Linked DNA regions of Homo sapiens: all the other regions are linked to region 3. Evidence: fine-mapped expression QTL. A gene starts in region 3. Each other region holds a variant in brackets. All regions are shown on one strand. Distances are from middle to middle.

Region 1 (8,102 bases), 470 kb after region 3:
GCAACGCCTGGGCCCACCCATCTCCTCTGCTCCCAGCCGTGAGGCTCCTTGGCACCTCCAGCCTCCCGCTCTGCCCTCACCCTCAACCCAGAGACTGTTCTCTTGTGGCTCCGGCCTCGGCCCCGTCTGTCTGCAGGTGGCACTCAGGCTGCAGGGAGGAGTGAAGATGGAGGAGGGGGGCTGCGGGCCAGGTCAGGAACTCCAGGGTCTGCCTGGGTCTCCCTAGCTTTGTGCCCTGGAGCTGATGCGCCCGTGACACCCGGCCTCGCCGCCGCACACGCCCTCACGGTGCAGCTGCTGCTGGGGCTGATGCCTTGGCTCTGCTCCCGAGCATCTCTTGCCTTCCCTCCTCCTTGCCCAGCCCCCGAGGAGGCTGTGGAGGGCCATTTATCCACAAGAGCTCTGGCCTCTCCCAGATCAAAGGAAGCAGATGGGCCTCAGCTGTCTGCTCTTCCCCTGTCTGCCAGGCCTTGTTAAATATTTAAAATGTCAAGGCCCCTGGGAACCTGCCCGATTCTGCCATGGAGCTCAGGAGCTCTTGCGTGCCTGTGGAGGCAGGGGCACGGAGAAGGGCAGGTGCACAGGTGGGTGGCTTGGCCTCTGACGGGCTTCCAAGCACCTGGGTCCCCAAGGCCACAGTGCAGGGAGCCGGCCAGGCCTGGATCTGCTGCCCACAGAATGAGCAGCAGAGGACCGGCCCCTCCCCTCTTCAACCCTCAAGGTCCTCGGGCTGGAGCTGTCGGGCTTGAGCTGTCTGGGTGCCAGGAGCGGGTGACTCGCTCCCCGCATCCCCTAGCCCGGCCGTGCACCCGGACCCTGGTGCTCAGACCTGCCTGCCCCTCAGTCCTCCTCAGACACAAGGGCCTGAGCCACGGGGGCAGCTGGCTTTGTTGTGCCCCAAGCCCCATGCCAATCCCCTGACAAGGTGGGCAGACGTGGGGCTGCCCAGGAGGCAGGCACTCCCCCGTGGGGCAGGTGCTTTATGGCGCATAGTGCATTGCGGGAAGGGGACTTTATCTTCTGGCGGTACACTCATCAATCCACTGCCCTCCCTGTCTTGGGAGCACTCCAAGAGGATTCCAGAACCCATCCTGGAAACCGCGCTGCTGTTGTCAGGAAACCTGGGTCTCAGGCTGAACTCAGAGGTGGGTTCGCCCGGGAACCTGGCCCCGCCCAGTGCCCCTCTGGGCTCCACAGGCAGTTCTGGAAAGGAGGGGGCGGATTCGCTGGGAGCCGACACGAGATGCTCCTAATCCAATTCTGATGGCATCTGGCCTCTGCTCCGGGCAGGCCGCCCATCTGTGTCCATGCCAACCGGCCAGCCCCTGCCCCCATGCCCTGGACCTGGACTGCCCTCGGGCCTGCTGGGGAAGCATGTGCTCAGAGCCAGAGGGGCCGCAGCTGTGTTCCTCCTCCCCGTCAATGGGTGCTGCAGTGGGGCAGCCGTCGGGACCCCGAGCCCACAGGAAGGCTAAGGAGAAACGAGCAAGGCTACAGCTGCAAGGGCAGGTCAAGGCCAAGGGAGAGGCTGGCGAGGGCGAGGGAGCTCCTGGGGAATGGGCCAGGGGTCCCGGCTGCTCTCAGGGACAAACTGGGCATGTGAGGAGGGGCAGGCAGGAGAGAGACTCGCATGGAGGCTCCAGGCTAAGGGCAGTGGAGACCCCAGGTGTCTGGGGAGCCCTCCCCTGCTCCTCTCCCTCCGCAGAAGCCCCACGGTTAGCACGTGCTTCTTCTTAAGTCACTTGGGGGGTCTTGTACTCCCTAGTACTGTCCCCACCTGGCTTAGCTCCTGTAATTCCAGGAGACAGTCCCAGTCCAGAGCGAGGTGCACACCCCTCAGTTGGGTCCCTGGTCCCCAGCCCCCTCCCCACCACCCAGGAGCTGAGGTCGTGCGTTAACCCCAGGCTCCCGATTGGGGCAGGCTCGGGCCTCAGCAAGAGGCCTTTGGCTCCTGAAGAAACCTGAGCCAGGGGCAGAGAGGCACGGACAGCTGCGGCTCTTCTGGGTGGGGAGGACGCCATGTGGCCGTCGCCTAGCTGGGGTGAATGAGCCACGGTTGTGCGGGCGGCAGCTTCTGTTCCACTGCGGCCAGGGCTACCCCTGCCCCTCCTCAGAAGCCCCAAGGTTAGCATGCGCCTGTTCTCCAGTCATCTGGAGGGTCTTGTGTGCCTTCCCAGACCCACTGTGAGTGCCCCATGGGCTGGGGCTGGGCTCTCTGGTCATCCCGTCCCTGCAGCAGATGGCAGGCGTGAGCCCAGCTGCCCAGGGCTGGGAGCTGCAAGCTGCTGTCTGTCCACCAGGTGTCAGTGTGGGTCTGGTCACGGCCGCGACAGCACTGGGCGCCGGGTGAGCGCCCGGGAGGGCTCCTCGGGATCAGCCGGGGCTGAGAATCCTGGGGCCAAGGGTGGGGCCAGAGGAGGGTGTCATCCCACATGCCTGCCCCGGTAGAAGGTGGCTGAGTGGGTGTCCAGGCCCGGATGCCAGTCACGCACGTAAGCTTCCAGTACCTTCAGGCCAAGGAAGACTGAGAAGTAAGCGTCCTCAAGGATGACAAGTGACAGAATTGGATAGGGACAGGTGGCTCTGATTGTGAAGGCAAAGCCAATTTGGGGGCTTCTGAGTGGCTTTGGGTGTCATTCAAGTCGCCATGTAGACAAGCTGTGAGCCCTGGCTGAGGGATCAAAGTTGGTGCTGGAGTTGCATTAGAACCAAGGCTGCTGGGTCCTGAGGGCCCTGTGCTCACCGGGTCCTGTCGGGCAGCGTAGGTTCTGTCCTGACCTGGGCCACAGGCCAGAGCTCTGACTCATGGTTACAGGGCCCTCTCCACCTCCGGCCTCAGTGGCCTTGTCTGCACCCTGCAGAGAGCAGCTGATGAGCAGCCCAGGGTGGGCAGTGTCTCCCCGACCCCTGCGAGGCCATGCAGCCCAGAAAAGGCTTGAAGACTTCCCAGTCCCCTCCCTCAGCACCGTGACTCCGGTTTGGCTTCTCCCCGCCTGTTCCCCACCAGGAACCCACTCCCATTCCCGTGCCTCTCTCTCTCCTCGCGTGACACCGTTCTTCTTCTTTGGGTCTCTGGACCCAAGAACTTGCATCTCCCATTAGCTCTCATGCTCCCTCCCCACTGCTTCTTCCCCGAGAAACTTCTGGAAAGTAAGCCTCCGCTCCCTGTTGCCAGCAGCCACAGGCACCCTGGAGACTGCTGATTCCTCGGCACTGGCCGTGCTCATGCCCCAATCCCTCGGGCCCTGCCCACCCTCTTTGCAGGCTGTCCCTGCCCCCACAGGTTGGGCTGTGTGACACTGCCAGTCTTTGGGACCGGCTGGCCCCATCTTACAGAGCTGGGGAGGGGGGTGTTGGTGACAAGCCTGCTCAGGGAATTCATAGGCTGGGAGCTAGAGAGGTGTTTCCTGACAGGCACAGAGCCCTGGCCTAGTCTTTGGCATCTGGTGCCATCCCAGCCTCCCCTGATTGGTGGCCCTCCCCATGTCTCCACTAAAGTCCCCTGGACACTCGCTCTCCTCCCCAGGGGACCATTGGCTATACTCTTCTGTCCTGTCTCCTAGCAACCCTTGTTGACCTGGACATACCCTGCTGGGTCCCCTCTGTGCCCCCTTGTTGGGTCCTGTCCCCTGCCTTCCAGTGCCCCCTCAGCGGTAGTGTGGAGGTGGCCAGGAAAGCACAGGGACCTGGGACCCGCTGGAGTCCAGGAGCCTCCTGGCCTGTTTTGTCATCTGTGTGTCAGGAGGAGGATGGCTAGGGACTCCCCATGACAGCAGCCAGAGAGCCGCATGCTCACTCCCACGTGCACACCCCCAGCAGTCTGCAGAAAGGCTCCTGTCTAGAGGGAGAGCCAGGCGCTGGCCAGACGGCCCCAGAGGGCTGCTGCCACCCCAGGAGCAGTCAGTCAGGGCCACATAGGAGGCCTGGGACACACAAGGCCGACCCGTCCCATCCCATCCTCCCCTTCTGTGCTTCCGGGGCACCATGCAGGCCTGGCGGACAACACCAATGACCTGGAGAAGCGCAGGCAGATCTACGGGCAGAACTTCATCCCCCCAAAGCAACCCAAGACCTTCCTGCAGCTGGTGTGGGAGGCCCTGCAGGACGTGACCCTCATCATCCTGGAGGTGGCTGCCATCGTCTCTCTGGGCCTCTCGTTCTATGCGCCGCCAGGAGAGGAGAGTGAAGGTAAGGCCCGGGGGCCTGG[G/A]CTGGAAGGAGGAAGAGGAATGGGGCTTGAGATGAGGGACGGTCACAGGATGGTGATGTCTCCTCCACTGCTTCCCTTCTGTCCTCCGCACAGCCTGTGGGAATGTGTCGGGAGGCGCAGAAGATGAGGGCGAGGCCGAAGCTGGCTGGATCGAGGGGGCTGCCATCCTGCTGTCCGTCATCTGTGTGGTGCTGGTCACGGCCTTCAATGACTGGAGCAAGGAGAAGCAGTTCCGAGGCCTGCAGAGCCGAATTGAGCAGGAGCAGAAGTTCACGGTCATCCGGAACGGGCAGCTCCTCCAGGTCCCCGTGGCTGCGCTGGTGGTGGGGGACATTGCCCAGGTCAAGTACGGTGAGTGCCCTGGTCTTCACCCACCCTGTCAAGGAAGCTCGGCTCCTGCTTCTGGGGAGGGTGAGCCAGAGGAGACCCCCAGCACAGGTTCTCCCCGGTGGCCTGCGTGTCGTCACCTGCCTTAGGAGGCGGGAGGTGGCGGGGGTGGGGGAGGTGGGGGAACACGGGGCAGGGCAGAGTGGTTTCAGACACAGCAGGCCCCCGAAGAATCAACTGTCCCCACAGCCTCCACGGCGGGCTTTCCCCCCTACAAAGGATGCAAATGTCCTCGTTCCCCAGAAGGAGGAGGGCTCCTGAGTCCCTTTCCCAGGCGGCCCATGGCACCTGACGGGACCTCCCCTGGGGCAGCCGGGAGGAGGCGGTGGGGAGAAAGGCCTCTGCTTCCCGGTGCTCTAGGCGACCTGCTGCCAGCCGACGGCGTGCTCATCCAGGCCAATGACCTCAAGATCGACGAGAGCTCCCTGACGGGCGAGTCTGACCACGTGCGCAAGTCAGCTGACAAAGATCCCATGCTGCTCTCAGGTGAGGGCCACCCTCCGGGCCAGCCTGGCACCAAGGGGCGTCAGCAGCCGTGTGGCCCAGCATCCTGTCCAGGCTGCCTGCTGGGCTCAGCCTCCACCTCCACCAGGGCCTTCCAGCATAACCTTCAGGTTGGGAATCTGAAGACTCCGCCCGTCTTGAGGCCTGATGGTGGCAGCTCCAGCCACAGGGCGAGGAAGCTGGCCCTCCAGGCCCGGGAGAGTGCTTTGTGTCCTGAATGGGAAGCCCCAAGCGGAGAGGCTTGCAGGGGCCAGCACAGCGCTGTGCTTCTCTCAATCCAGACCCTCGACAATATCCAGTGGGGGTAGTGTTCCCTTTCCAGAAGGTTTCAGCATAGTCCGGTGTTTATCCCAGTTGGAAACGTAGTGTGAAACGGGACAGGAAGGCTGGAGGCCCTAGGTGGGCCCTGTGGGCCTCGGGGTCTCCTCCAAGCCAGGGAGGAGGCTTCAGCCTAGTTTTAAGGTGGACACCGCGTCCCTGCTTCCGGGAGACCCTGGGAGACAGGTTGTGGGCGCTGAATGTGTCTCCCACTGGGTGATACAAATTCCTGTCTCAGTCTCTGTGTTGCTGTTCCAGGCACTCATGTCATGGAAGGTTCTGGAAGAATGGTGGTGACCGCCGTTGGCGTGAATTCCCAGACAGGCATCATCTTCACGCTGCTTGGAGCTGGCGGAGAGGAGGAAGAGAAGAAAGATAAGAAAGGTAGCGCAGCAGTGCCGCCAGTCCCTGGTGCTGGTGGCGGCTCCTTCCACGCTGCCCATTCTTTCTTTGCGGGCCGGTGCCACTGGGGGCTCAGGGAGAGCCAGCCCAAGTGGGTGGGAGGCCGGGCCCTCTCTTTTGATTCTCCGTGGAGACTCCTCTTCTGAGGATATCCCCCCTGAGAGCCGGCAGGCCAAGGGCCCCTCCAGTGCCGTGGACGGGGAGTTTCCCTGAGACCACCATCCCCAAAGGCTCCGGGATCCCATACCTACCTGGACAGGAATGGCGTTAGAGGGACAGGAGCTACGGGGAGCCTCATGCTTACCCTCAGGGCCCGTGCCCAGTAAGGTGCCGAGGATCCCAGGCCAGCGTGGGAGGCAGCCAGGGAGGTGGGGGTCAGAGGTCAGAGGAGGCTGGGACAGGTGAGGGCCGGGCAGCCCAACTGTGGGTGGTGGCCCTGCCCTGGGGCTTACAAAGCTAGGCAAGCCCGAGCCAGGAGGGCCCATTCCTCGTCCTGTGGCTGGAGCTGCCACCATCAGGCCCTGCAGCGGGCGGAGTCCTCAGACCTTCTAACCTGAGTACTATTCAGGGAGGCCCTGATGGACAAGATTGAATGGCTGCCACAGCCCCTTCTGGCTGGGCAGCCTTGCTCTGGCCTGGACTTGCCTTCTGGCCTCTCCTGCAGCCAAAACATGGTAGGGAGCCACACCCGCATGGGAAAGCTCTGCTTCCTGCCAGTGACCTCCAGCCAGGGCCCTGGGGCCAGTGCGCGGGGTGTGGGGGCGTGGGGGCGTGGGGCGGGCAGTCAGGGCCCGGGGAAAAGGTCAGCCCTGAGCCCAAAGCTCCCTGGAGGCAGCAAAGGAGTAGCTGGATGACCCTCTGTGGCCTAGAAGCTTCGACGAGCCCTGCCTCCTGGCAGCCTGGGCCTGTGTCTCCCTGCACCGGCTCTTCTTTGTGGCACCAAGTCCTGTAGGGCTCAGTGCAGTGTCTCACCCCAGTGAGTGCCCTGGGGGTGCGCAGGCAGATGGGCAGCCCTGGGCCTCGTCTGGGCTGGGCTGGAGTCCCTAGGCCTCTGTCCTGGGAAGCCCAGCTGCCCCTGCCTGGGCTGCCTCCTCATGTCTTGCACACAATGGCCCTCTCCCATCGTCCACGGGAACCCACGCTCCTCTGGAGTCTCCAGCCGCCCTTCTCAGGCTGCTCACCTTCTCTGTACCTTAAATGAGTGTGTCCTTCCTAACTGTTCCAGGCCTCTCCTTTCTTTTTTAAATTGACAAGACCATTCAGCCCCTCCCAGGCCCCACCTGGCCCTCCTCTCCAGCACCCTCAGGCTGTCCTACTTAGGAGTCAGAGCTAGAGGGCTTCCTGGAGGAAGAGAACCCTGAGGGGGCCCTGGAGGGAGAGCAGCAGCTGGCCAGCTGGGTAGAGGGTACCAGCAAGACCAGGGGGCTCCCTGCTCGCCCTCCCCGTCTCTCCCGCCCCATCCCCATTGTTTGGCGCAGCCTGCCAGGTACACGCTTAGGATACTTGCCTTCTACCTGCACCCAACCCCCTATTTCTTGTCTCTTGACCTTGACTCCTATGCACCTTTCTCCAAGTGTGCTTCTCCTCCTCACCTTCCCCCCACTCCTGTCTCTTCTGGCGGGGCCCAGCCCTCCTCTTCCAGCAATGCTCATCCCAGACTTCCCCCTGCCTCCCTCCTCCAGAGGCCTCCCAGGGCCTGTGTGCAGGCTGGGTCCAGAGTCCATGCTTCCTTCGGGCCCCCACGGCCCCAAGGCTCTGCCATCTCCCCTGCTGTGCTGTGCGGTCATCGCACTGCCATCTTGTGTCCGTGGGGGTCTCCCCTCCCTGCAAGAAGGGCCCTCTGTGCCCACAGGAACCCTGGGCGGAGAGGGCCTGATCAATGCCCCACCCCTGGCTGAGTAGGGTCGGGGGGGGGGCCCTCCCTGCTCCCTGGGGACCCCGGATCCCAACCCCAACTGCCTGGGAGTGCAGATGTGGCCCCCAGGAAGCTCCTCTAACTGCAGCTCTCAGAAGGGGTGACTGTGCCCACCACCTGAGCCCCTGGATAGGGCCACTTGGGGCCCAGCCTGGCCTTGCAGGGCTGCTGTGTGCCGGGGCTCAGGCTGGCACTCCTGTGCTGCAGCCCTGGGTTGACCAATGACCTGAAAGCGCCCCGCAGAGTCCTAGCGTCTCATTCCTTTGTCCCTTTAAAACACACACTGGGGCCAGGCACAGTGGCTCATGCCTGTAATCCCAACACTTTGAGAGGTCAAGGCAGGTGAATCACTTGAGGTCAGGAGTTGGA
Region 2 (8,102 bases), 25 kb after region 3:
TGTGGGACATTTCCTAGCCTGAGGAGAAGTGGAGAGGGATTTCCTATCTCCTTGCCAAAGTTAAATTTTCTTGCCAAAATGTGGTGCAAAACTGAATTATAATAAAACAATCTTGAAGTTAGTAACACGATGCAAACTATAAGTTATTGTCATAGTCTGTTTTGTGCTGCTATAACAAAATGCCTAAGGCTAGGTAATTTGCAAAGAACAGAAATTTATTTCTCACAGTTCTGGAGGCTAGGAAGTCCAAGCTCAAGGCACCAGCATCTTGTGAGGGCCTTCTTGCTGCATCAGCATATAGTGGAAGGCATGAGGGCAAAAGGGGACAAATGCTGTGTCCTCACATGTCAGAAGAACAGAACAGCACAAACCCACTCTAACAAACCCTTTTTATTTAATGGCATTAATCCATTAGGCTCTCATGACTTAAATATTGTCCAAAAGTTCCTATCTCCCAACGCTGTTGCAGTGGGGATTATATGCAACACATGAGCTTTGGGGAACACATTCAGTCCATAGCATTGCCCCTCTGGCCCACAAAATTAATGTCCTTCTCACATACAGAATACATTCATTTCATCCCAATATTCCCCAAAGATTTAACTTATGCTAACATCAACTCAAAAGTCTAAAATTCAGAATCTCATCCAAATCAGATTTATGTTACACACATCTGTGTGAAGAGACCATCAAACAGTCTTTGTGTGAACAATGAGGCTGTTTATTCACTTGGGTGCAAGTGGGCTGAGTCCGAGAAAGGAGTCAGTGAAGGTAGATGGGAGAGGGGCAGTCTTATAGGACTTGGGTAGGCAGTGGAAAATTACAGTTAAAGGTGGTTATCTATTGTTAGCAGGGGAGGGGGTCACAAGGTGCTCGGTGGGGAGCTCCTGAAACTCATTGTCTAGGGGAGGAATGTCACAAGGTCGATTGATTAATTAGGTTGGAGCAGGAACAAATCACTATGGTGGAATGTCATCAGTTAAGGCAGGAACTGGCTGTTTCACTTGTTTTGTGGTTCTTCAGTTGCTCCAGGCCATCTGGATGTATATGTGCAGGTCACAGGCGTTATGATGGCTTAGCTTGGGCTCAGAGGCCTGACATTCCTGTCTTCTTATATTAATAAGAAAAACAAAACAAAATAGTGGTGAAGTGTTGGGGCTGTGAAAACTTTTGGGGGTGGTATGGAGAGATAATGGGCAATGTTTCTCAGGGCTGCTTCGAGTGGGATTAGGGGTGGCGCGGGAACCTAAAGTGGGAGAGATTAAACTGAAGAAAGATTTTGGGGTAAGGGGTGATATTGTGGGGTTGTTAGAAGGAGCATTTGTCATATAGAATGATTGGTGATGGCCTGGATGCTGTTTTGTATGAACTGAGAAACTAAACGGAAGACACAAGGTCTGAATAAGAGAAGGAGAAAAACAGGTATTAGAGGACGAAGAATTGGGAGGACCAAGGACATCCAATTAGAGAGTGCCCAAGGGGGTTCAGTGTAATTATTTGCTTGGTTGGTGAGTTCTTGGGCTCTATCCTTGAGTTTTTCTATGTTGTCATATACCAGGCCAGTTTGATTTAGGTAAAACAAAACAAAACAAAACAAAACAAAAAAACGCTTCATTTAAAAATATACAGAGTCCTCCTTTTTTAGCAGTAAGTCGAGGTCTCAGCTGTTTTGGAGGACAACCACAGCTAAAGAGTCAACCTGGGCCTGAAGGACTGATAAAGTTTGTGATATGTCTGTGATGCTAGCAGAGAAGTCATTAGAGAGGCTATGGAAGGTTGTGACAGAGGTTGAAATGCCTGCTACTCCAGTTCCAAGAGCAATAGTGGAGGCAGAAAGTCCTAAACCGACAAGCAAGGGAATTAGTGGAATAACCCTTTTTTGTTGTGTCAGTGTCATGAAGGGAACAGGAAGCTGTTCGGTCCCATTTGCAAATTGAATTTTGGGAGTAAGGAAAACTGGTGTGCATGCGCCTGTCCAATTAACAGGAAAACACATGTAGGTGGATGAGCCACAGAGGAAAAAGAGACCTTGTGTAAGGCAAAACTGGAAGTGCAAAGTGAAGAGGTGAGAGGGTGTACTAAAAGAGATGTCTTCATATGGCTGGGAATGTGGAGTAGGCAAGAGAAGATTAGCAGTCTGGCGAATTTCCTGTCTAGCCTGCTGAAGGACTGGAAGATAGTCACCTAGAGGGCTGGTGTCTGGAAAAGTTTGGGGCTGAGCAAGAAAGTACGTCCACATAAAAGTTTAAATGGACTGTACCCTGTAGCATCTTAAGGGCAGGCTCTAATTCTGAGAAGGGCAAGTGGTAGAAGTACTGTCCAGTCCTTTTTAAGTTGGAGGCTGAGCTTGGTGAGGTGTGTTTTTAAAAGGCCATTAGTCCATTCTACCTTTCCTGAAGATTGAAGATGGTAAGGGGTATGAAGATTCCACTGAATACCAAGAGCCTGAGAAATTGCTTGGGTGATTTGACTAATAAAAGCCAGACCATTGTCAGATTGCACAGAAGTAGGGAGGCAAAATCGGGGAATTATATCTATTAGAAGGGAAGAGAAGACTGCAGTAGCCTTTTCTGAGCTACTGGGAAAGGCCTCGACCTACCCGGTGAAGGTGTTGACCCAAACCAGGAGATACTTAAATTTACGGACACAGGGCATATGAGTAAACTCAATCTGCCAATCTTGTGTCAGAGTAAATCCATGAGCCTGATGCATAGGAAAAGGAGGAGGCCTGAGAAAGCCTTGGAGGCTGGTGGTATGGCAGACAGAGCATTGAGAGGTGATGGTCTTAAGGATGGATTTCCATGAAGGGAAGGAGATGAGGGGCTGCAGGAGGATAGCCAGGCTTGTATCCCACATGGAAGTGGTCATGAAGGGAAGAAAGAATGGACTGAGCTTGTGAGGCAGGAAGAATGAATTTTCCATGCTCGAAGGACCACTTGCCCTGAGTTGGAAAAGACTGGTAGAGGAGGTTTTCAGAACCAGAGTAGGTGGGAGTGATAGAGGAGAAAGAAAAATACTGGTCCTCTGGAGTGGGGGCTGGAATATTAGCAGGTGTGGAAACATTGGCTGTTTCTTTTGCTGTCCTGTTGGCATAAGCATTTCCTTTTGCAATAAGATCAGTAGGTTTCTGGTGTCCTTTAAAATGAATGACTCTAGCCTTGGCTGGCAGGAGAGCAGCCTTAAGGAGGGCCTTTATGAGGGAGGCATTGATAATGGAAGAGCCTTATGTGGCAAGGAAGCCTTTTTTGGCCCAGATGGCAGCATGGTTATGGAGGATGTGGAAAGCATATTTGGAGTCAGCATAAATGTTAATGTGCATTCCTTTAGTGAGAGAGAGCACACAAGTTAAAGCAATCAGTTCAGCTTGTTGGGAAGTGGTGGAGGGAGGAAGTGCA[G/A]CAGCTTCGATAATAGAGGTGTGGGACATGACAGCATATCTCGCTTTAGCTGGTGAAAATTGATTGAGTTTAGAAGAACTGCCATCGATAAACCAAGTATGGTCTGGGTTTGGAATTGGAAGAATAGAAATATGAGGAAAAGGGGAAGATGCTAAGTGTATTAGGGAAATACAGTCATGTGGTTCAGGACTTGTTTTGGGTGCTAAGTGAGAAGCTGGGTTGAAATCAGGCCCATGTGTAATAGTTACTGTTGGAGTTTCAACAAAGAGTGAATATAGCTGGAGGAGTTGAGGGGCAGACAATAAATGTAAAAGGTGTGAGGAGGATATTAATGCTTGAAGGTTGTGAGAACTGTAAAGGGTAAGTGGAGCATAGCCTGTGATTTTGAAGGCCTCTAGAAGTATTAAAGTGGCAGCTGTCACCACACGCAGACATGAGGGCCAGCCCAGAACTGTGAGGTCAAGTTGTTTTGATAGAAAGACAACAGGTCGTGGGCCTGGCTCCTGTGTGAGGACTCCAGCAGCACAGCCTTGTATTTCAGCTGTGTGTAAGGAAAAAGGATGGGATGAGTTGGGGAGTGCTAGTGTGGGAGCTGTCTCCAGGGCCTTTCTGAGAGAGTGAAAGGAATAATGGGGTAAAGACTTAGGGTCTATGGGATCAGTTAAATTACCCTTTGTGAGCTTGTAAAGTGGTTTGGTTAAGATAGCAAAGCCTGGTATCCAGAGTTGGAAATATTCAACAATGCCTAAGAAGGAAAGGAGTTGTTGTTTGATGGTGGGGATTGGGGTCTGGGAGATGAACTGAACAATGTCTTCAGGAAGGGTGTGTGTATGTTGATGGAGGATTATACTGATATAGGTAATGCTAGGGGAAGAAATTTGTGCCTTGGAGGGGGATACTCGGTACCCCTTTGAGTAGAGATGTTGAAGAAGCAGAATAGTGTCCTGCTGGGAAGATTGGTAAGAGGGGCTGCAAAGAAGAAGATCAGCAATATATTGAATAAGGTGGGAGGCAGATGGGCAAAAAGAAAGCAGATCATGAGAAAGGGCCTGACCAAAGTAGTGTGGGCTGTCCCTGAAGCCCTGGGGCAGAACAATCCAGGTGAGTTGTTGGGATTGGTGGGTGTCAGGGTCAGTCCAAGTAAAGGCGAAAAGAGGCTGGGAGGAGGGATGCAAGGGGATAGTAAAGAAGGCACCTTTGAGGTCGATAATAGAATAGTGAGTTGTGGAAGGGGGTATTGAAGATAGGAGGGTGTGCGGGTTTGGCACTATAGGATGGATGGGAAGGACGATTTGATTAATAAGGCGAAGATCCTAAACCAACATGTAAGACTTGTCCGGTTTCTGGACGGGTAGGATAGGGGAGTTGTAAGGAGAATTTGTAGGCTTTAAGAGGCCATGTTGTAACAGGTGGGTGATAACAGGCTTTAACCCTTTTAAAGCCTGCTGTGGGATGGGATATTGGCACTGAGCAGGGTAAGGGTGGTTAGGTTTTAGTGGGATGATGAGGGGTGCATGATTGGTTGCCAAGGTAGGAGTAGAGGTATCCCATATTTGTGGATTAAGGTGGGAAGATACAAGAGGAGGATGTGAAAGAGGCCTTGAATTGGGTAAAAGTGCAGCAATGAGGTGTGGCTGTAGCCCAGGAATAGTCAGGGAAGCAGATAATTTGGTTAAAATATCTCAGCCTAATAAGGAAACTGGCAGGTGGGCGTAACTAAAAAAAGAGTGCATAAAATAATGTTGTCCAAGTTGGCACCAGAGTGGGGGAGTTTTAAGGGGTTTTGAATCTTGGCTGTCAATACCCACAACAGTTATGGGGGGCAAGGGAAACAGGCCCTTGAAAAGAAGGTAATGTGGAGTGAGTAGCCCCTGTATCAATTAAACAGGGGACGGACTTACCCTCCACTGTAAGAGTTACCTGAAGCTTGGCGTCTGTGATGGTCCAGGGGGCTTCTGAGATGATGGGGCAGCATCAGTATTCAGCCACTAAGCTGAGGAGATCTGGGAAAGAGTCAGCCAAGGAATATTGGGTTTGAGCTCCAGGAGCTTTAGGAGTGGCGGCGATGTGAGTTGGACAGTCTGATTTCCAGTGGGGGCCCACACAGACAGGGCATGTCTTAGGAGGAATCTTGGGCTGTGGGCATTCCGAGGCCCAGTGGCCAGGCTTTTGGCATTTGAAGCAAGGTCCACGAGGAGGTTTTGAAGGAGCCCCTGGGAGCCGTGGCTTGGATGTTCTGAAGGTTTTGTATGCTGGAGACGTGGTTGTGGGTTGTCTTACAGCGGAGGCAAGTAGTTGTAACTCAGAGATAAGTTGCTGCTTGGCAGCTTCTTCTCTGTTATTGAACACCTTGAAGGCAAGGTTGATTAAATCCTGTTGTGGGGTTTGAGGGCCAGAATCAAACTTTTGGGTTTTTTTTTTTTTTAATGTCAGGAGTGGATTGGGTGATAAAATGCATATTAAGGATAAGGCGGCCTTCTGGTCCCTCTGGGTCTAGGGTGGTAAAGAATCTAAGGGTTGTTGCCAAACGGGCCATGAACTGGGCTGGGTTTTTATATTTGATGAAAAAGATCCTAAACGCTAACTTATTTGGGAGAGGTCAGATAAAGAAAAAGTCACATGTACCCTGACTATGCCTTTAGCTCCAGCCACCTCTCTAGGAGGAAATTGTTGGGCAGGTGGGGGAGAGCTAGTCGGGGAATGAAACTGTAAGCAAGACTGAGTGTGAGGAGGGGGGGTAATAGCAGGGTTATAGGGTGGGGGAGCAGAGGCTGCGGAAGAATTGGGACCCGATTCAGCCTGGCGAGGAGCGGCCGGGGGAGGAGGAGAGAGGTCAGAAGGGTCAGTGGAAAAGGAGGATTCAGAGGACTCTGAGCTTGGGGTGGAGACTGAAGGAGCAGACGGGAGAGAAAGAAGGAAAATCTGAGACAAGTCGCACTGGGAGCAGAGACTAGGGAGGGAGCGAAGTGTAAAAAATGTTTGGACGTAAGGCACCTCAGACAATTTGCCCAATTTTTCACAAAAATTATCTAGGTTTTGTAGGATGGAGAAATCGAAAGTTACATTTTCTGGCCATTTGGAACCATTGTCAAGTTTATATTGGGGCCAAGCGGCATTGCAGAAGAAAATAAGACTTTTGGGTTTTAGATCAGGTGTTAGTTTAAGAGGTTTTAAGTTTTTAAGTACACAGGCTAAGGGGGAAGAGGGAGGAATGGAGGGTGTAAAGTTGCCCATAGTGAAGGAGGTGAAATTGAAGAGAAAGGTAGAGATGTAGAGAAGGGGAAGTGAGCAGCTACCAGGCTTTCATTAGGTGTCCCTGGCTGAGTCCTGGGCTGTAATGTGGGTGATCAGCCAAAGCAGGCATCCCCATAATTGGCTTGCCACGAGGGGAGTGTGGGTGAATGATCAAGGCAGGTGTCCCTGTGAAGATCAGACACCAAGGGACGACTGTCTTCCCAAATCTGTGACCGACGTCGGGGTTTCTGAATTCACAGATAAAATGTGTCTCCTTTGTCTCTACTAGAGAGGAAAAAGAACTGGAATTGGAAGGACAAGGAGATTGAAGGGTAGCAAGAGAGGCTGGAGAAGAGAGTGAAGAGACCACTTACCCAATTTGAAATTGGTGAGATGTTCCTGGGGCTTGTCTGAGGACTGGAGGTCATAGGTGGATCTCCTCATGGAGTGAGGGCAAGGACAGGGGACTGGTCTCCCAAAGGAATCCCCCTGTTCCGGGTTTTTCGGCACCAAATGTTACACACGTCCATGTGAACAGACCACCAAACAGGCTTTGTGTGAGCAGTGAGGCTGTTTATTCACTTTGGTGCAAGTGGGCTGAGTCCGAGAAAGGAGTCAGCAAAGGAAGATAGGAGAGGGGCAGTCTTAAAGGACTTGGGTAGGCAGTGGAAAATTACAGTTAAAGGTGTTTATCTATTGTTAGCAGGGGAGGGGGTCACAAGGTGCTCAGTGGGGAGCTCCTGAGACTCATTGTCCAGGGGAGGAATGTCACAAGGTCAATTGATTAGTTAAGGTGGGGCAGGAACAAATCACAATGGTGGAATGTCATCAGTTAAGGCAGGAACTGACTGTTTCACTTGTTTTGTGGTTCTTCAGTTGCTCCAGGCCATCTGGATGTATATGTGCAGGTCACAGGGGTTATGATGGCTTAGCTTGGGCTCAGAGGCCTGACAATATAGATGAGACTTAAGGTATGCTTCATCCTTAGGTAAATTTCTCTCCAGGTATGAGCCTGTGAAATCAAGCAAATTATGTACTTCCAATATACAATGGTAGGACTGGCATAGGATAAACATTCCCATCCCAAAAGGGAGAAATAGGAGCGAAGAAAGGAGTAATAGGCCACAAGCAAGTCCAAAACCCAACAGGGAAAACAACCATAAATCTTAAGGCTTGAAAATAATATTCTTTGACTCCATGTCCCACTTTCCGGACACACTGATGTGGGGGTGCAGTCTCCAAGGTTCTGAGCAGCCCTGTTCCCATGACTTTGCTGGGAACAGAGCATGTTTCAGCTCTCATGTATTGAAGTTGCATGCCTGTGGTTTTCCTAAGCCGGAGTTGCACTCTGGTGGCTCTACAGTTCTGAGATCTCAGGGGTGACCCCACTTCCACAGCTCCATTAGGCTTTGCCTTAGTGGGGGCTCTCTATGGTGGTTCCATGTGTTTGGCTGGTCCCTGCCTGAGCCCCAA
Region 3 (8,102 bases):
GTTGAGGCTGGGAGCCCGCCCCCACCACGCTTAGATCCAGCAAAGTAGGAGGAGGAGGAGGAAGGTCCAAGGGCAGAGAGGCAGGTAGAGAGGGAGGAGGTCAGCCCAAAAGTGGGGTGGGGGAGAGGAAGAAGCTGAGAAAGGAAATGGTTTTGAGAAGGAAGGAGAGTCAACTGTGTTGAGAGGTGGAGACAATGGGGACAGAGGACTGACAAAAGAAAGACAGTTGACGTGTCACAGCCCAGCCTTGCCCGGGGTTGGCGGGGGGCAATGGGTGTCCTGCAGCGTCCTGGACTTGGAGTCAGCAGGTGCAGAAGGAAGGAGAGTGGGAAGAGACAAGGCCGAAAACAGGAAATTAGTTGCGAGCCGGCCGGTGGGCTGGCTGGGCCAGTTGGAGACACCAGACCCACAGATGTTCCCAGGGCGGGGGCGGCCGAGGCGGGGGGGGGGAGGGGGGGGGGGTCGGTGCCCTTTCTGAAGAAGGACTCCAGAAAAATCACGGCTGAAAACAAGAGAGAGGACAATATGTGGTATAAGCCGTGACAAGTCTAACACTAAAGGTTCGATAGACAGACACTCTCACAGCAGAGGTAAAGAGCAGCAGTTTGCCTGAATGAGAACAAGCAGTCTTGGCCCTCAAGGGGGAGAAGCGGTGGGGGGCAGGGGGGCGGGGAGGACTGGACACACGAGCCCAACCGGGGAGGCTGCTTTGTGACAGAAGACATGCGTTTCTTCGCTGACCCCACGTTTACTACCTGGGAGGTAGAAAAGCCTGGGGAGCAAGACCATGCCAACCTAAGTACCACACAGAGAGGGAGCCTCCCTATAAGAATGGTATTCAGAAATAGGCACTGCAGTGGGGACGCGTGCGCCCTAGTGAACTATGTGCATATTCAGGCAGGGGAAGGCAGACAAAGGTTTTTCAGGACAAGTGAAGAGGATTACATAATTGTTTTGACATAATGATCTTTGGCTACAAGGATGAATAACAAGGGTAGCATTGGTCAGGGGCTTGGACAGGAAGTTGCTGGGCAGGTGTCCTCACAGAAGTATTATTTGTGTCAGGTTGCAACAGCCTTTGTGCAAATTTGTGGGTTTTGCAGTCTTCCGTGATAGCTTTTGTTATCAGGCATTCGTGCATGGGAACCCTGCCTAGGTGGCCCTCCACAGCTCTATTTGTCAGGTTTTTGGATTTTTGTTTGCTTGAACAACAAGTGACTCCATCTTGATTCTGAAACCTTTCACAACCATACGGGCAAGCCAAAGTCTAATTGTGAGGCCCACTCCAATGCGACCTGCTTCTGGGCAACGTGATAGACTGGCCATGGCTTATATCACAAAAGGAGAAAGGCTTCGATCTTGACGCTAGGAACTTTCTCCTGGAAACGGGCCGATGACGCCTGTCATCTGCGAGATGAGGAGGAAAGGAGCAAAGGAGATTCACAGAAGAGGAACCAGGAACGGCCAGTGAGAGGATGCACGACCTCGCCACCGCTCGGGGAAACGCAAGGCACACAGCGATGAGGTGGTGTCTCTCCCCGTGGGATGGGCAAGCAGGCGAGGCTGGACAGGACCAAAGGCTGCTCGGGCTGTAGGAACCCAGGACCGCTCCCACGCTGCCAGTGCGAGGGAACATGGGTTCAGCCACGCACCGGAGGTCACAGATGAGCAATGCTTGGTTGTGGCGTTGATAGGCACAGCCCAAGTCCCAGCAGAGCCACTGCCTGCTGTGCACCCCAGAGTCTTTCTGGCTGACGGTGGTGGCTCAGACAGGCATGCGGGATGCCACTGGCAGCAGTGTCTGCAACAGCCAAACAGTGGGAAGGACCGGAATGTCCATCCCCAGGGTCATAGACAAATACTCTGGGGCTGTGATTCAGCAAGGAGCTTGGGCGAGCTGGACGCTTGGGGGAAACCTTGGCCAGCAAGTTGCCAAACAGGAGGTCAGGCAAGGAAAGAGAAGGGGATGAGGGAACGACACCCAGAGGTGTGACCCCGTGGGAACCTGTTTGCCACCTGCCTGGTGGAGATGCTGTTCACATGGCCCCAGCCTCCCATGATGGGTCAGGTGCAGGGTGGTCAGATCCACGGGCGCAGAATCTCTGTTTTGAGCGGAGGCTGCTCTGCCCTGGCGCAGTGTCTAGCCCCGGCAACAGAGGACTGGGGAAGGACCTATGGAAGGCTGACTCAGGCCCTGACAGACGGAGGTCTCCAGGGAGGTACGACACCCATGCTGCCCTCAGGGCCAAGAGAGCAATGTCCCAGAGCCCATCAGGCTGGTGAGGGCACAGGGGGCAGGGGACAAATTGAGTAGCCCACTCCGCGCGGACTACCTTTCCAGGCACACACTCAGGCAGAGACCCAGACTCGGGACTTGCGGCTGCAAAACGGACGAGGCCCGGGCATACTTGGGTGCTGGGTCACCCTCCTAGGTGCTGGCTCCTGGCACCAGGGCAGCAAAGTGCTTCGGCCGGAGGGCTGCGGGTCCCTGAAGCCGGATGGGCAGCGGGGAGATGGCAGACCCTCCGTAGGATGGTGTGCGTGAGCTGCGTGAGCGCCTGGGGCATCTCCTCCACGGAATGGCACCCGCACCAGGTGCCCCTGGCCTCGCCTGGCCTTGCCAGCCAGAGGACCAGTCCTGGACGGGGAGGGGGAGGACAAGAGCAGGTGCACAGGCCCCAGAACCCGGCTCCCTGACCCTGGCCAGAACGCAGAGCTGCCGGACGCACCTCAGACCACTCCCTGGCCCTCTGGTGGGCACGCCGGGGTGCACACCCGTCGCCCCGCTGGCGCCTGCCTCCGGGGCACGTGCGGGAGGGGCAGAGGCCTGGACCAGGAACCGCTGTGGTGAGAGCCAAAGGCGCTGGGACCTGCGGCCCACAGACCTTTGGACACCCCGGTGGGGGTGGGGGTGGGCTGGCGCCTGTGTTCCCGGGACCCGCGGCGCGAGGGGAGTGGGGGTGGGGCTAGGGGATAGGAGCAGGTGACGTCACCCGGGGTCCTGGGGCGCTCGGGAAGGCGGCGAGAGCCAGGCCACGTGACCCGCCCGCGGCAACGGCCCTGCGCTCTCCCGGGCCGGCGACGCGGAGGGGTCCGCGCTGCACCGCCGCCGCACCCCGGCCGCGTGACCGCACTGCAGAGAGCGGCTGCGAGCAGGCGCCTGCGCACCGGCCCAAACGCCGAGCGAGCGAGGGAGAGGCACAGTCAGAGGGAACGCCCGCGCGGGGAGCCAGGGGCGCCCGACCCCGCCGCCGCCGCAGCGGCGCGCAGCCCCCGACGCGCCCTGTGGGGACCCGGACCAGGAGGGACCCTGCCCCGGGAAAAGGTATCAGACCCACCCGGGGAGGGGGACGCTGGGTCCCGGGAGACTCCGCCGCCCCTCGCCTGTCCGCCCTAACAGAACTGAAGCAGCCTGCGGGGCAGCGGTCCGGGGTCCGGGGTCCGGGGTCCGGGGTCCGGGGGCGGCGCGGGGATGAGGCCAAGACCCGCAGGGACCACCCCCCCGGGGGGGCGGGGCGGGACAGGGGCGGGGCCTGGCTGCAGAGGCGCGGCCAGGGGAGGAGGGCGGCTGGGGGTGGGAGTGGACGTGGACGTGGACGTGGGCGTGGGGAGGGGTGGGCATTAACCTCGCTCTCGCCCGCTCGCATTCACAGGCTGTGGAGACCTGGGCTCCGACCCCAGTTCATCCCCCCACACCCCCGCCGCCCCGTGCCACCCTGGTCCGCGCTGGGAACCCTATCCTGCCCCTCGTGTCAGCCCGGCACTGGCCAGAATCGCGGGCATGGCGGTGACCATGCTGCAGGACTGGTGCCGGTGGATGGGGGTCAACGCTCGCAGGGGCCTGCTCATCCTGGGCATCCCGGAGGACTGTGATGATGCCGAATTCCAAGAGTCCCTCGAGGCTGCCCTGAGGCCTATGGGACACTTTACAGTGCTAGGCAAAGCGTTTCGAGAGGAGGATAATGCCACCGCGGCCCTGGTCGAGCTCGACCGGGAAGTCAACTATGCTTTGGTCCCCAGGGAAATCCCCGGCACTGGGGGCCCGTGGAACGTGGTCTTTGTGCCCCGTTGCTCAGGCGAGGAGTTTCTCGGTCTCGGTCGCGTGTTCCACTTCCCGGAGCAAGAGGGGCAGATGGTGGAGAGCGTGGCCGGCGCCCTGGGTGTGGGGCTGCGCAGGGTGTGCTGGCTGCGATCCATCGGTCAGGCGGTCCAGCCCTGGGTGGAGGCCGTGAGGTGCCAGAGCCTGGGCGTGTTTTCCGGGAGGGACCAGCCAGCCCCAGGGGAGGAGTCCTTTGAGGTCTGGCTAGACCACACCACCGAAATGCTGCATGTGTGGCAGGGGGTCTCGGAAAGGGAGAGGAGGAGGAGGCTGCTGGAAGGCTTGCGTGGGACCGCCCTGCAGCTCGTGCACGCGCTCCTGGCGGAGAACCCCGCCAGGACGGCGCAGGACTGTCTGGCGGCCCTGGCCCAGGTGTTTGGAGACAACGAGTCCCAGGCGACCATCCGGGTGAAGTGTCTGACCGCTCAGCAGCAGTCAGGCGAGCGTCTCTCAGCTTTCGTGTTGCGGCTGGAAGTGCTGCTGCAGAAGGCCATGGAGAAGGAGGCCCTGGCCAGAGCATCCGCCGACCGCGTGCGCCTGAGGCAGATGCTCACCAGGGCCCACCTTACTGAGCCTCTGGATGAAGCACTGAGGAAGCTGAGAATGGCCGGGAGGTCTCCAAGTTTCTTGGAGATGCTGGGGCTCGTTCGGGAGTCTGAGGCATGGGAGGCCAGTCTAGCCAGGAGCGTGAGAGCCCAGACACAGGAAGGGGCCGGTGCCCGGGCTGGTGCCCAGGCTGTTGCCAGAGCCAGCACTAAAGTAGAGGCGGTCCCAGGAGGTCCTGGTCGGGAGCCAGAGGGCCTCCTCCAGGCAGGAGGCCAGGAGGCTGAGGAGCTCCTCCAGGAGGGGCTCAAGCCCGTCCTGGAGGAATGTGATAACTAGGTTGGGGCTGGGGAGGCAGCCCAGCGCGAGTCCTCCCCGGGCAAATAGGCTCCGAGGGCCCCGGGGCCTCCTCTCCTCCTCTCAGGCAGCAGGGCCCTGGAGACAGGCGGAGGCGGGGCCAGGGCCGGTCCCTCACCCCACATCGGGATCGGGGCCCCCCACTTCCCCCCAAGGGGCCCTGCCCACCACCACCTTCCCGGTGACCCAGATGACCACATTTAATACCAAATGGGGTGGGGGGAGGCGCCCCTCCAGTGCCAGGGGCACGTGCTGTGAGCTTCCTGGGAGCCCAGGTTGTGCTCACTGCTCTCCCGTATCGTGAGCACCACCTCTGCTTTCCCTGCGTAGATCTAGGCCAGGGGCTGCTTGTTTTTGTGGAGCCGTGTGTGTTCTTCTCTGAGCAGCTCCTCCCCAGAGGACCCCAGCGCAGTCCCGGGAGATGGCGGAAAGAAGGCACCAGGGCACAGTGGACACTCATCCCGTGACAGCGATGGTGACCATGACTGTGGGAGAAAGAACAGGACCCGGGATGGAGTGGGGCTGTCTGAGTTTCCCCAGTGAACTTTGTGCTTTGGCGTTCCACCCCTGTTGTTACTTGTTACTGAGTTTCCTAGACCTGGGGTGGGTGTTCCCCCAGGAGGAGGGGGGTCCCGACCTGTGTCCTGTGGTGGCCATTTGCAGCTTCTGTGTTGTGATTCCCTTCTCTTCAACGGTTTCAGTACATATCTCTCTTCAATAAATTTCATTCAGTGTTCCAGCCGGCCTCGCCTCTGCTGTGGGAAACTGCATGGGGTGCGGGGTGCGGGGTGCAGTGTTGGCTGGGGACAAGGTGAGGTGAGGTGCCACAGTGGCTGGGCTAACATCGGGGTGTGTGGGGTGCTTGGTCCCTGAGGGTCTGTGTGGTCCCCTGGGCTGCACGGGATGGCGTGGTAGTCTTGAGCAGGGGCTGATTGGGTTCCCAGGGCACGCTGATCACCTCCCAGGAGTAGGTGGTTTGGACGTTGCAGACAGGCAGAGGGACAGTAGGCTAGGTCCTGGTATCCAGGATCCCTGACAGCACTGCGGGGTGGGGTGGGGGGGGCGGCGCTCAGGGCTTTCAGAAGGGTCAGAGTGGCCACATGTGTAACCTCAGGCTGGAAGCCAAGGTCAGGGAAGAGCCCCAGGAGGGCCTGGGCATGAAGTCAGAGGCCCACACGGGAGCCATGTGGAGGACTCCGCGGGTGGGGGACCGCTCTTGGGAGACCCAGGCAGCTGACACCCTTGAGAGGGCCTCTTTCCCCCTGCCTCTCCCAACCCAGGACAAGGAGTGGGGGGCAGACATCTTCAGGTGCCCCCACCCAGGCCACAGCTGGCCCCGATCCCGATGTGGGGTGAGGGACCGGCCCTGGCCCGGCCTCCGCCTGTCTCCAGGGCCCTGCTGCCTGAGAGGAGGAGAGGAGGCCCCGGGGCCCTCGGAGCCTATTTGCCCGGGGAGGACTCGCGCTGGGCTGCCTCCCCAGCCCCAACCTAGTTATCACATTCCTCCAGGACGGGCTTGAGCCCCTCCTGGAGGAGCTCCTCAGCCTCCTGGCCTCCTGCCTGGAGGAGGCCCTCTGGCTCCCGACCAGGACCTCCTGGGACCGCCTCTACTTTAGTGCTGGCTCTGGCAACAGCCTGGGCACCAGCCCGGGCACCGGCCCCTTCCTGTGTCTGGGCTCTCACGCTCCTGGCTAGACTGGCCTCCCATGCCTCAGACTCCCGAACGAGCCCCAGCATCTCCAAGAAACTTGGAGACCTCCCGGCCATTCTCAGCTTCCTCAGTGCTTCATCCAGAGGCTCAGTAAGGTGGGCCCTGGTGAGCATCTGCCTCAGGCGCACGCGGTCGGCGGATGCTCTGGCCAGGGCCTCCTTCTCCATGGCCTTCTGCAGCAGCACTTCCAGCCGCAACACGAAAGCTGAGAGACGCTCGCCTGACTGCTGCTGAGCGGTCAGACACTTCACCCGGATGGTCGCCTGGGACTCGTTGTCTCCAAACACCTGGGCCAGGGCCGCCAGACAGTCCTGCGCCGTCCTGGCGGGGTTCTCCGCCAGGAGCGCGTGCACGAGCTGCAGGGCGGTCCCACGCAAGCCTTCCAGCAGCCTCCTCCTCCTCTCCCTTTCCGAGACCCCCTGCCACACATGCAGCATTTCGGTGGTGTGGTCTAGCCAGACCTCAAAGGACTCCTCCCCTGGGGCTGGCTGGTCCCTCCCGGAAAACACACCCAGGCTCTGGCACCTCACGGCCTCCACCCAGGGCTGGACCGCCTGACCGATGGATCGCAGCCAGCACACCCTGCGCAGCCCCACACCCAGGGCGCCGGCCACGCTCTCCACCATCTGCCCCTCTTGCTCCGGGAAGTGGAACACGCGACCGAGACCGAGAAACTCCTCGCCTGAGCAACGGGGCACAAAGACCACGTTCCACGGGCCCCCAGTGCCGGGGATTTCCCTGGGGACCAAAGCATAGTTGACTTCCCGGTCGAGCTCGACCAGGGCCGCGGTGGCATTATCCTCCTCTCGAAACGCTTTGCCTAGCACTGTAAAGTGTCCCATAGGCCTCAGGGCAGCCTCGAGGGACTCTTGGAATTCGGCATCATCACAGTCCTCCGGGATGCCCAGGATGAGCAGGCCCCTGCGAGCGTTGACCCCCATCCACCGGCACCAGTCCTGCAGCATGGTCACCGCCATGCCCGCGATTCTGGCCAGTGCCGGGCTGACACGAGGGGCAGGATAGGGTTCCCAGCGCGGACCAGGGTGGCACGGGGCGGCGGGGGTGTGGGGGGATGAACTGGGGTCGGAGCCCAGGTCTCCACAGCCTGTGAATGCGAGCGGGCGAGAGCGAGGTTAATGCCCACCCCTCCCCACGCCCACGTCCACGTCCACGTCCACTCCCACCCCCAGCCGCCCTCCTCCCCTGGCCGCGCCTCTGCAGCCAGGCCCCGCCCCTGTCCCGCCCCGCCCCCCCGGGGGGGTGGTCCCTGCGGGTCTTGGCCTCATCCCCGCGCCGCCCCCGGACCCCGGACCCCGGACCCCGGACCCCGGACCGCTGCCCCGCAGGCTGCTTCAGTTCTGTTAGGGCGGACAGGCGAGGGGCGGCGGAGTC
Region 4 (8,102 bases), 520 kb before region 3:
AATCCAGCATATAAACAGAGCCAAAGACAAAAACCACATGATTATCTCAATAGATGCAGAAAAAGCCTTTGACAAAATTCAACAGCCCTTCATGCTAAAAACTCTCAATAAATTAGGTATTGATGGGACGTATTTCAAAATAATAAGAGCTATCCATGACAAACCCACAGCCAATATCATACTGAATGGGCAAAAACTGGAAGCATTCCCTTTGAACACTGGCACAAGACAGAGATGCCCTCTTTCACCACTCCTATTCAACATAGTGTTGGAAGTTCTGGCCAGGGCAATCAGGCAGGAGAAGGAAATAAAGGGTATTCAATTAGGAAAATAGGAAGTCAAATTGTCCCTGTTTGCAGACGACATGATTGTATATCTAGAAAACCCCATCGTCTCAGCCCAAAATCTCCTTAAGCTGATAAGCAACTTCAGCAAAGTCTCAGGATACAAAATCAATATACAAAAATCACAAGCATTCTTATACACCAACAACAGACAAACAGAGAGCCAAATCATGAGTGAACTCCCATTCACAATTGCTTCAAAGAGAATAAAATACCTAGGAATCCAACTTACAAGGGATGTGAAGGACCTCTTCAAGGAGAACCACAAACCACTGCTCAACGAAATAAAAGAGGATACAAACAAATGGAAGAACATTCCATGCTCATGGGTAGGAAGAATCAATATCGTGAAAATGGCCATACTGCCCAAGGTAATTTACAGATCAATGCCATCCCCATCAAGCTACCAATGACTTTCTTCACAGAATTGGAAAAAACTACTTTAAAGTTCATATGGAACCAAAAAAGAGCCCGCATCGCCAAGTCAATCCTAAGCCAAAAGAACAAAGCTGGAGGCATCACACTACCTGACTTCAAACTATACTACAAGGCTACAGTAACCAAAACAGCATGGTACTGGTACCAAAACAGAGATATAGATCAATGGAACAGAACAGAGCCCTCAGAAAGAACGCCGCATATCTACAACTATCTGATCTTTGACAAACGTGAGAAAAACAAGCAATGGGGAAAGGATTCCCTGTTTAATAAATGGTGCTGGGAAAACTGGCTAGCCATATGTAGAAAGCTGAAACTGGATCCCTTCCTTACACCTTATACAAAAATCAATTCAAGATGGATTAAAGACTTAAACGTTAGACCTAAAACCATAAAAACCCTAGAAGAAAACCTAGGCTTTACCATTCAGGACATAGGCATGGGCAAGGACTTCATATCTAAAACACCAAAAGCAATGGCAACAAAAGCCAAAATTGACAAATGGGATCTAATTAAACTAAAGAGCTTCTGCACAGCAAAAGAAACTACCATCAGAGTGAACAGGCAACCTACAAAATGGGAGAAAATTTTCGCAACCTACTCATCTGACAAAGGGCTAATATCCAGAATCTACAATGAACTCAAACAAATTTACAAGAAAAAAACAAACAACCCCATCAAAAAGTGGGCGAAGGACATGAACAGACACTTCTCAAAAGAAGACATTTATGCAGCCAAAAAACACATGAAAAAATGCTCACCATCACTGGCCATCAGAGAAATGCAAATCAAAACCACAATGAGATACCATCTCACACCAGTTAGAATGGCAATCATTAAAAAGTCAGGAAACAACCGGTGCTGGAGAGGCTGTGGAGAAATAGGAACACTTTTACACTGTTGGTGGGACTGTAAACTAGTTCAACCATTGTGGAAGGCAGTGTGGCGATTCCTCCGGGATCTAGAACTGGAAATACCATTTGACCCAGCCATCCCATTACTGGGTATATACCCAAAGGACTATAAATCATGCTGCTATAAAGACACATGCACACGTATGTTTATTGCGGCATTATTCACAATAGCAAAGACTTGGAACCAACCCAAATGTCCAACAATGATAGACTGGATGAAGAAAATGTGGCACATATACACCATGGAATACTATGCAGCCATAAAAAATGATGAGTTCATGTCCTTTGTAGGGACATGGATGAAATTGGAAATCATCATTCTCAGTAAACTATCGCAAGAACAAAAAACCAAACACCACATATTCTCACTCATAGGTGGGAATTGAACAATGAGATCACATGGACACAGGAAGGGGAATATCACACTCTGGGTACTGTTGTGGGGTGGGGGGAGGGGGGAGGGATAGCATCGGGAGATATACCTAATGCTAGATGACGAGTTAGTGGGTGCAGCGCACCAGCATGGCACATGTATACATATGTAACTAACCTGCACAATGTGCACATGTACCCTAAAACTTAAAGTATAATAAAAAAAAAAGAAAGGTACCAAGTAGGCTTATGCTTTAAAATGATCATGCACTGGCTGCTGTTTGGAAAACAGACGATAGGAAGACAAAGGTATAGAAATGCACAGACATAGGTACAATGATGGTCACTGTCTCTGTATTTAAAGAGATGAAAAATAAAAACAGCTGAAATATCCACCAATGAGAGTAGGTTAAAGAAATGATGTAACATGCAACCATCTCCTGGACCACTGGGCAGCCCTTCAAAGGAATGAGGCAGAACTATGTGTAATATTTGGAAAGATGCCTATTACATGCTGTTAAGTGAACAAAAAGCCAGTTGTAAAACAAAATGGTAAGATCCCTCTTTTACTAAAAAGAAGAAAACATGTAGAGCACCACACACACACACCCTTTTTTGTGGAAGCATAGAAAATATTAAGCGAGTAATTTATGGTAGACAGAATAATGGAACCCCCAAATATATTCACACCCTAATCCCAGAAACTGTGAATACGTGACCTTATTCACCGTAAATATGTGACCTTATTCAAAGTAAAAAGGACTTTGCAGATATGATTAAGGGTGTGAACCTTATGATAGGGAGAGCATGCTGGTTCACTTAGGTGGATCCAATCAAAGCACATGAGTCCTTAAGAGAGATAAACTTCCCTCGCTGAATCAGAAAGATGGCAGCATCAGAAAGATTTGATGCATTGTTCCTTGTTCTGAGATGTAGGAGGCTGTGTGAAAGAACCACAGGGAGGCCTTCAATAATTAAGGGCAGCCCCTGCAAGACAGCCAGCAATGAAAGGGGGACCTCAGTTCTGCAACAGCAAGGCACTAAGTTCTGCCAACATCTGAATGAGCTTGGAATCCAATTCTTCCCTAAATCCTCCAGAAAAGAACACAGCCCTGCCCATAATTTGACTTTAGCCCTGTAAGACCCATAGCTGACTTATGATCTCTAGAACTGCAATCTGTATTGTTTTAAGCCACTAAGTTTGTGGTGATTTGTTAAAGCAGCAATAGAAAACCAATAATACGTAACCTCAGCCAGCAGGATCTCACAGCAAAAGAGGATCCCAAGAAAAAATTAGAGAAATTAGATTGGTTAGATCTTATTCCTGGCCCAAACCCCAGAGTCTCTGATTCAGCAGGTCTGGGGTGGGGCTTCAGAGTTTGCGTTTCTAACAAGTTCCTAGGGGATGGAGGTGCTGCTGGTCCAGGACTACAGTTTGAGTACTGTTGATCAAGAGAATAGGGTCTAGAACCATACCTACTGGAACCAAATTTTGGTTCCACTGCATACTCACTTTTGACCTTAAGCAAATTATCTTTGCCCTAGTTTTTTCAACCATTAAGGGGATGGTAATACTAGTTTCTACCTCATGAGCTTATTCTGAGACTAAATTAGTTAATATATGTAAAATATTTAGAAAGCTGCCAGCACATATTTAGAACTAGGTATATTTTAACCATTATTACTTTACTGTGTACTTATTTGACCTGTAATCTGTTTTTTTACAATCAAATAGAATCTCTCTTTGAAAGTCATTCATATCCTTTTCCAAGTGCCTTCCCTTTTTCTCACTTTCTCTGACATCCTATTAACCTTTAGACCAAAACCTTCATAGATAGACCTCTTTCTTCAGCAAACCTGGCCCTCACTGGGGAAATAAAAGCCTCCAGCTACAAAACAACAACTGCCCTTTCTCCTTTCCTGCACCTTCTCCTTCACTCTTTTTCCCATCAGTTGAAGGGGAAATGCTTCAGGAAAAGGGAACTGCTACAACAGCAAATCTTTCTTGCTCAGCCTTCCCTTTCAATACTTTAATAATTGAGCTGGTCTGCTCTACTCTGAGTGAGCTCTAGAATTATTGTTCTCCTGAGAATTTGACGAGGCAATACTGAAATAACAAATGTAATTTACTTCAACTTTCGCTAAACAAAACAAAATGGTTTATGCATCATCACGTCGCGTCTTTTTGATAAGCCACCTCTACTCATGATCAAAAATATGCGGCTGATAAATAAATTCAATCAGCAGACAAGGCTCTTGTAGCTCTTTAAATTGTCAATCTCTATTGACAATAGCAGCAATTTCAGCTAAACACTGAGGAGGCCAGCAGGCCACTAACTCCCAGCCTCCGCTCCCACTTGCAAACAGAGCCCCACTGTGGCTCTGCAAGCCCTTCGCCCACACTCTCACCTACCCGGCCACCAATAGGCAGCTTCTCAGCCTAATTGTACCTTTATCTG[C/G]TACAACTTTGAACTCAGCGAAATTTATACCAGGTGTTGCAAATTTTTTACTGGTAATGAGTTAATTTACACAGATGGCTGTCACTTCTCCATTTCTCCAGCTCCTTTGCTGATAAGGCAGGAAACAGCTTGACTGTGCAGAGCCCGTGGAGCCCAGAAAAGTCGGGGATGGGGAGTGGTCCCTGACCAAATGGACACGCCCTGGCTCCAGAGCTCTGCCCTGGCCCCCAGAGCAAGCCAAGCCTTACCCACCGACCCTGCCAACTCTAGCCCAGGACTTTTAGTTCCCTGCTAAAAGAGCTCTTACACAACTGAAACGAGACCAACCAACCCACTAGTTGGGAGGGCAGGGGGTGGCAAGAGAGATGTGATTATAAGTACCTTTTAAATCCCAGGAAATTCATCTTTTCAATTGCTTTTGTTGGTTTTTCAACCCGGAAGGCCTCAAATGCGTGCTAAAGCATCTTGTGAAAGTGCTAACGGGGGATGCAGCGCCTCAGAGTTAGATACTGCCAAATAAGGCACCCTCCTCACTGTGTGAAGCCCTCTGGGTTAGTGGCTCTGCAGGCAAGGCGGCAGCAAGCGCCCAGGGCTGGGCTGGGACTGTCTCCCAGCCTGCCTATATAATGGAAAACTGTATCAATAATAATAGGTAACATTATATACAATGTTATATGTAATCATAATGGCACCAAATATAATTCACGGTTAACATTTCGCATTCAATGCCTTCACCTGGTGGATTTCGAATCTGACCAAGAATTCCAATCACCTACAGAGCGTTTCCAACTCTTGAAGCCCAGGTTACACTCCATACTACTCAAATCGGATCTCTAAAGGCAGGAGCCAGTGGGCAGTGTTTGTTAAAGATGATTCCAGGTGATTCCAATGTACAGCAAAGTTTAGGAACTGCTACCTGAACCCAAAGGAGAGACATCAGCAACCCTGGACAGGCAAGCAGGAGCTAATTTTTTGAGTTGAGCCAACTCTCCACATAAAGTGCCATCCCCTAGCCTCTAGCCTGTTCCATCCCTGCTGGTACCGTGTTTGTTTTCTTTTAATTTTTTGAGGGCAGGGGATGCCAAGGTCCCCCAGGCATATAATGTCTTTCATGAATAATGTCTTAATGTCTTTAAGAAACTATGCTCTACAAGCCATACTACTAGCAGCCTGGGTCACTGCCAGCCTCCCATTACCCATGCTGGACCCAATCAATCTTAGCCACACCCTGTCCCTCATCTTTCCCCTCCCCTTGCAGTCCATGACCATCCTGTTCCCACCACAACAAAGCATTCCCTGAATCCCGGCTCCAACTGTCCACCTCCTAGCCATCAATGCAGGCACAACCCGAGTGCCATTCCCTCCATGAAATCTATGTTGATCTTCTCTCCAAGTTGTCTCTACAAATCTGAGGGTCAGGTCTATAGATTTAATGAAAAGAGCATCACACATAGATCAGTAGACCTGGATGTGAGATTTCACCACTGTAACCGAAATGCTAGTTGTTGAGTCAATTTTATTTTCCCCTTCTTCCTTAAAACTATCCTTGGACTGCCTAACACTGTGCTGATTTTACTGGGAAAAAACCCAAACCTCTACCTTGATCCACCAGGTGATGTTATTAACAGCCAAACCTAACTTGAACTGGAACAAGTAGATGCTGGTTGTGAGATCCTGGACAGGCCATTGTTCTTCTGAACCTTAGTTTCTTCAACTATAAAATAGGAAGAAAATGAGCTGTGAGGATTATTTAAAATCACCTAACAGTTAGTTGAACTTGTCTGTATCTTAATTAATTGAATAAAAACTTCTCACTTCGTAGACAATGGAACTGAGCACTTAAAGGGGAAGTGCTTTGCTCAAGGACACAAAGAAAATTAGTAGCAGGTGCAGGAATTAAAACCAGAGCCCCTTTGATTTGGAACTCAACTTAAATCAACAGAACTCAGGCTTAACTACTTGAAAATCATTGCAAGCAGTAATGAGAAAATATTGATTTAAAAATCATGTTAGTAGATGATCAAAAACAGAAGCTATTTAGTCCATTAGGAATTGCTTTTAAGCTGGGAGGGTGTGGGAAAGATCTTATAGAAAGATAACCAACAGTCAATTATGCCCACACTAGGTATGGAATAGTTTATTCTCCACTCATGTGAAATGCTATCTTTACAAACACCCACCCACACACACACACACACACAATCTCACGGATCTATTTGTCTATTCCTGTGCCAATAAGTCATTGTGCTGATTAATGGCAAGACGAGCCCCTCCTACCATGTTCCTTTAAAAAGTTTTATTCGCTTTTGTTGCTTTCTCTTTCTAATGAATTCTAGAATCAGCTTCTCAAATTCTATAAAACATCTCACTGTGATATTAATTGGGTTGCATTACATTTATAATTTCTGGAGAACTGACATCTTTACTATAATAATAGTGCTTATTGTGTACCAGGTATGATTCTATTTTCCCTGCCAGGTGCCAAGTAAATTATCTAAGCATTTGGGGTATATTTTCAAAAATATAGACATGTATTTATATTTTATTTTATTTCTTATGTCAAAAAATTAAAACAGAGATTCTTGCCCTCAAGAAGCTTATATTTTGGCAGAGGTAGTCAGTCAATAAATAAGAAATACGGCCTGGTGCGGTGGCTCACGTCTGTAATCCCAGCACTTTGGGAGGCCAAAGCGGGAGGATCACTTGAGTCCAGGAGTTTGAGGCCAGCCTGGGCAACATAGGGAGATCCCATCTCTACAAAAAGTTTAAAAATTAGCTGGACGTGGTGGCATATGCCTGTGGTCCCAGCTACTTGGGAGGCTGAGGTGGGAAGATCGCTTGAGCCCAGGAGATCAAGGTTGCAATGAGTGATGATCACACCACTGCACTCCAGCCTGGGTAATAGCAAGACCCTGCCTCAAAACAAACAAACAAAAATAAGTAAATGATATCATATGCTAGAGGGTAGTTAGTGCTATAGAAAATAAAATGAGGAGGGAAAGTAGGATACAGGGAATCAGGAGAGCAGGGTGCAGGTCACACAGCCTTATATAGGTTAATCATGGTAGAATAACTCATTGATTCCTCAGTGAACCTTAACTCTATGGCTACTGACACTTTACAGGGAAATAAAATTGAGGCACAAAGAGGTTTAAGTAATAGGCCAAAGTCACACTGCTAGGAAGTGACAGAGCCAGGATTTGAAGTTGAGCAGGCTGGGCTCCAGATTCCTGGAGCCAGAGTCAATATTCCTAACCCTACACTGCATGCCATCCAGGTTCCAGGTATGTTTCTCAATTTCCATCCATCTTTATATCCATCAGCAAAATATAACATTTTTCATTTAGTATGGCACATTTCTTGTTCAGTTTATTTTTATGTATTTATACTATTTCTTGCCATTGCAATGTGAAATATTTTCACCATGACATTTTCTAATCAGCTTTTGCTACTGTATGGAAAAGCTATTGATTTTTATGTGGTAATCAGCTATCTCTGAGTGCTTATAAGTTCCAGTAGTCTTCCGGTTGGTTTTCTTGGATTTTATAATTAGAAACACATAAAATAACAGTTTG

Alleles and levels. Alleles are on the strand shown, and positions count from the first base shown. SD is a standard deviation of normalised expression in the study named. Not every link is listed here.
For the expression in atrial appendage of the gene that starts at base 3,173 in region 3, allele A in region 1 goes with a lower level than allele G (large effect, 0.92 SD a copy in GTEx).

What was found.
Region 1: its variant is fine-mapped to the expression of PNMA6A in atrial appendage (GTEx, PIP above 0.99).
Region 2: its variant is fine-mapped to the expression of PNMA6A in whole blood (TOPMed, PIP above 0.99).
Region 4: its variant is fine-mapped to the expression of PNMA6A in transverse colon (GTEx, PIP 0.96).

Annotation. Positions count from the first base shown.
Region 1 is chrX:153,537,369-153,545,470 of GRCh38, forward strand. ATP2B3 (ATPase plasma membrane Ca2+ transporting 3) reads left to right here. Exons shown (of 22, transcript NM_001001344.3): 4 at 3,991-4,188; 5 at 4,301-4,558; 6 at 4,955-5,080; 7 at 5,675-5,800. Among named protein-coding and RNA genes, the nearest start is that of ATP2B3, 24 kb to the left of the region's middle. RefSeq lists an enhancer at 6,504-7,356. The variant G/A (reference allele first, on the strand shown) is at 4,208.
Region 2 is chrX:153,093,895-153,101,996 of GRCh38, forward strand. No RefSeq gene overlaps it. Among named protein-coding and RNA genes, the nearest start is that of PNMA6A, 25 kb to the left of the region's middle. The variant G/A (reference allele first, on the strand shown) is at 3,396.
Region 3 is chrX:153,069,282-153,077,383 of GRCh38, forward strand. It overlaps PNMA6A (PNMA family member 6A), which reads left to right and starts at 3,173. Exons shown (of 2, transcript NM_032882.6): 1 at 3,173-3,325; 2 at 3,654-5,738. The coding sequence starts at 3,782. The coding sequence ends at 4,981. It also overlaps the pseudogene PNMA6B.
Region 4 is chrX:152,548,251-152,556,352 of GRCh38, forward strand. It overlaps MAGEA3-DT (MAGEA3 divergent transcript), which reads right to left. Exons shown (of 5, transcript XR_938525.3): 5 at 6,127-6,241. Among named protein-coding and RNA genes, the nearest start is that of GABRQ, 86 kb to the right of the region's middle. The variant C/G (reference allele first, on the strand shown) is at 4,528.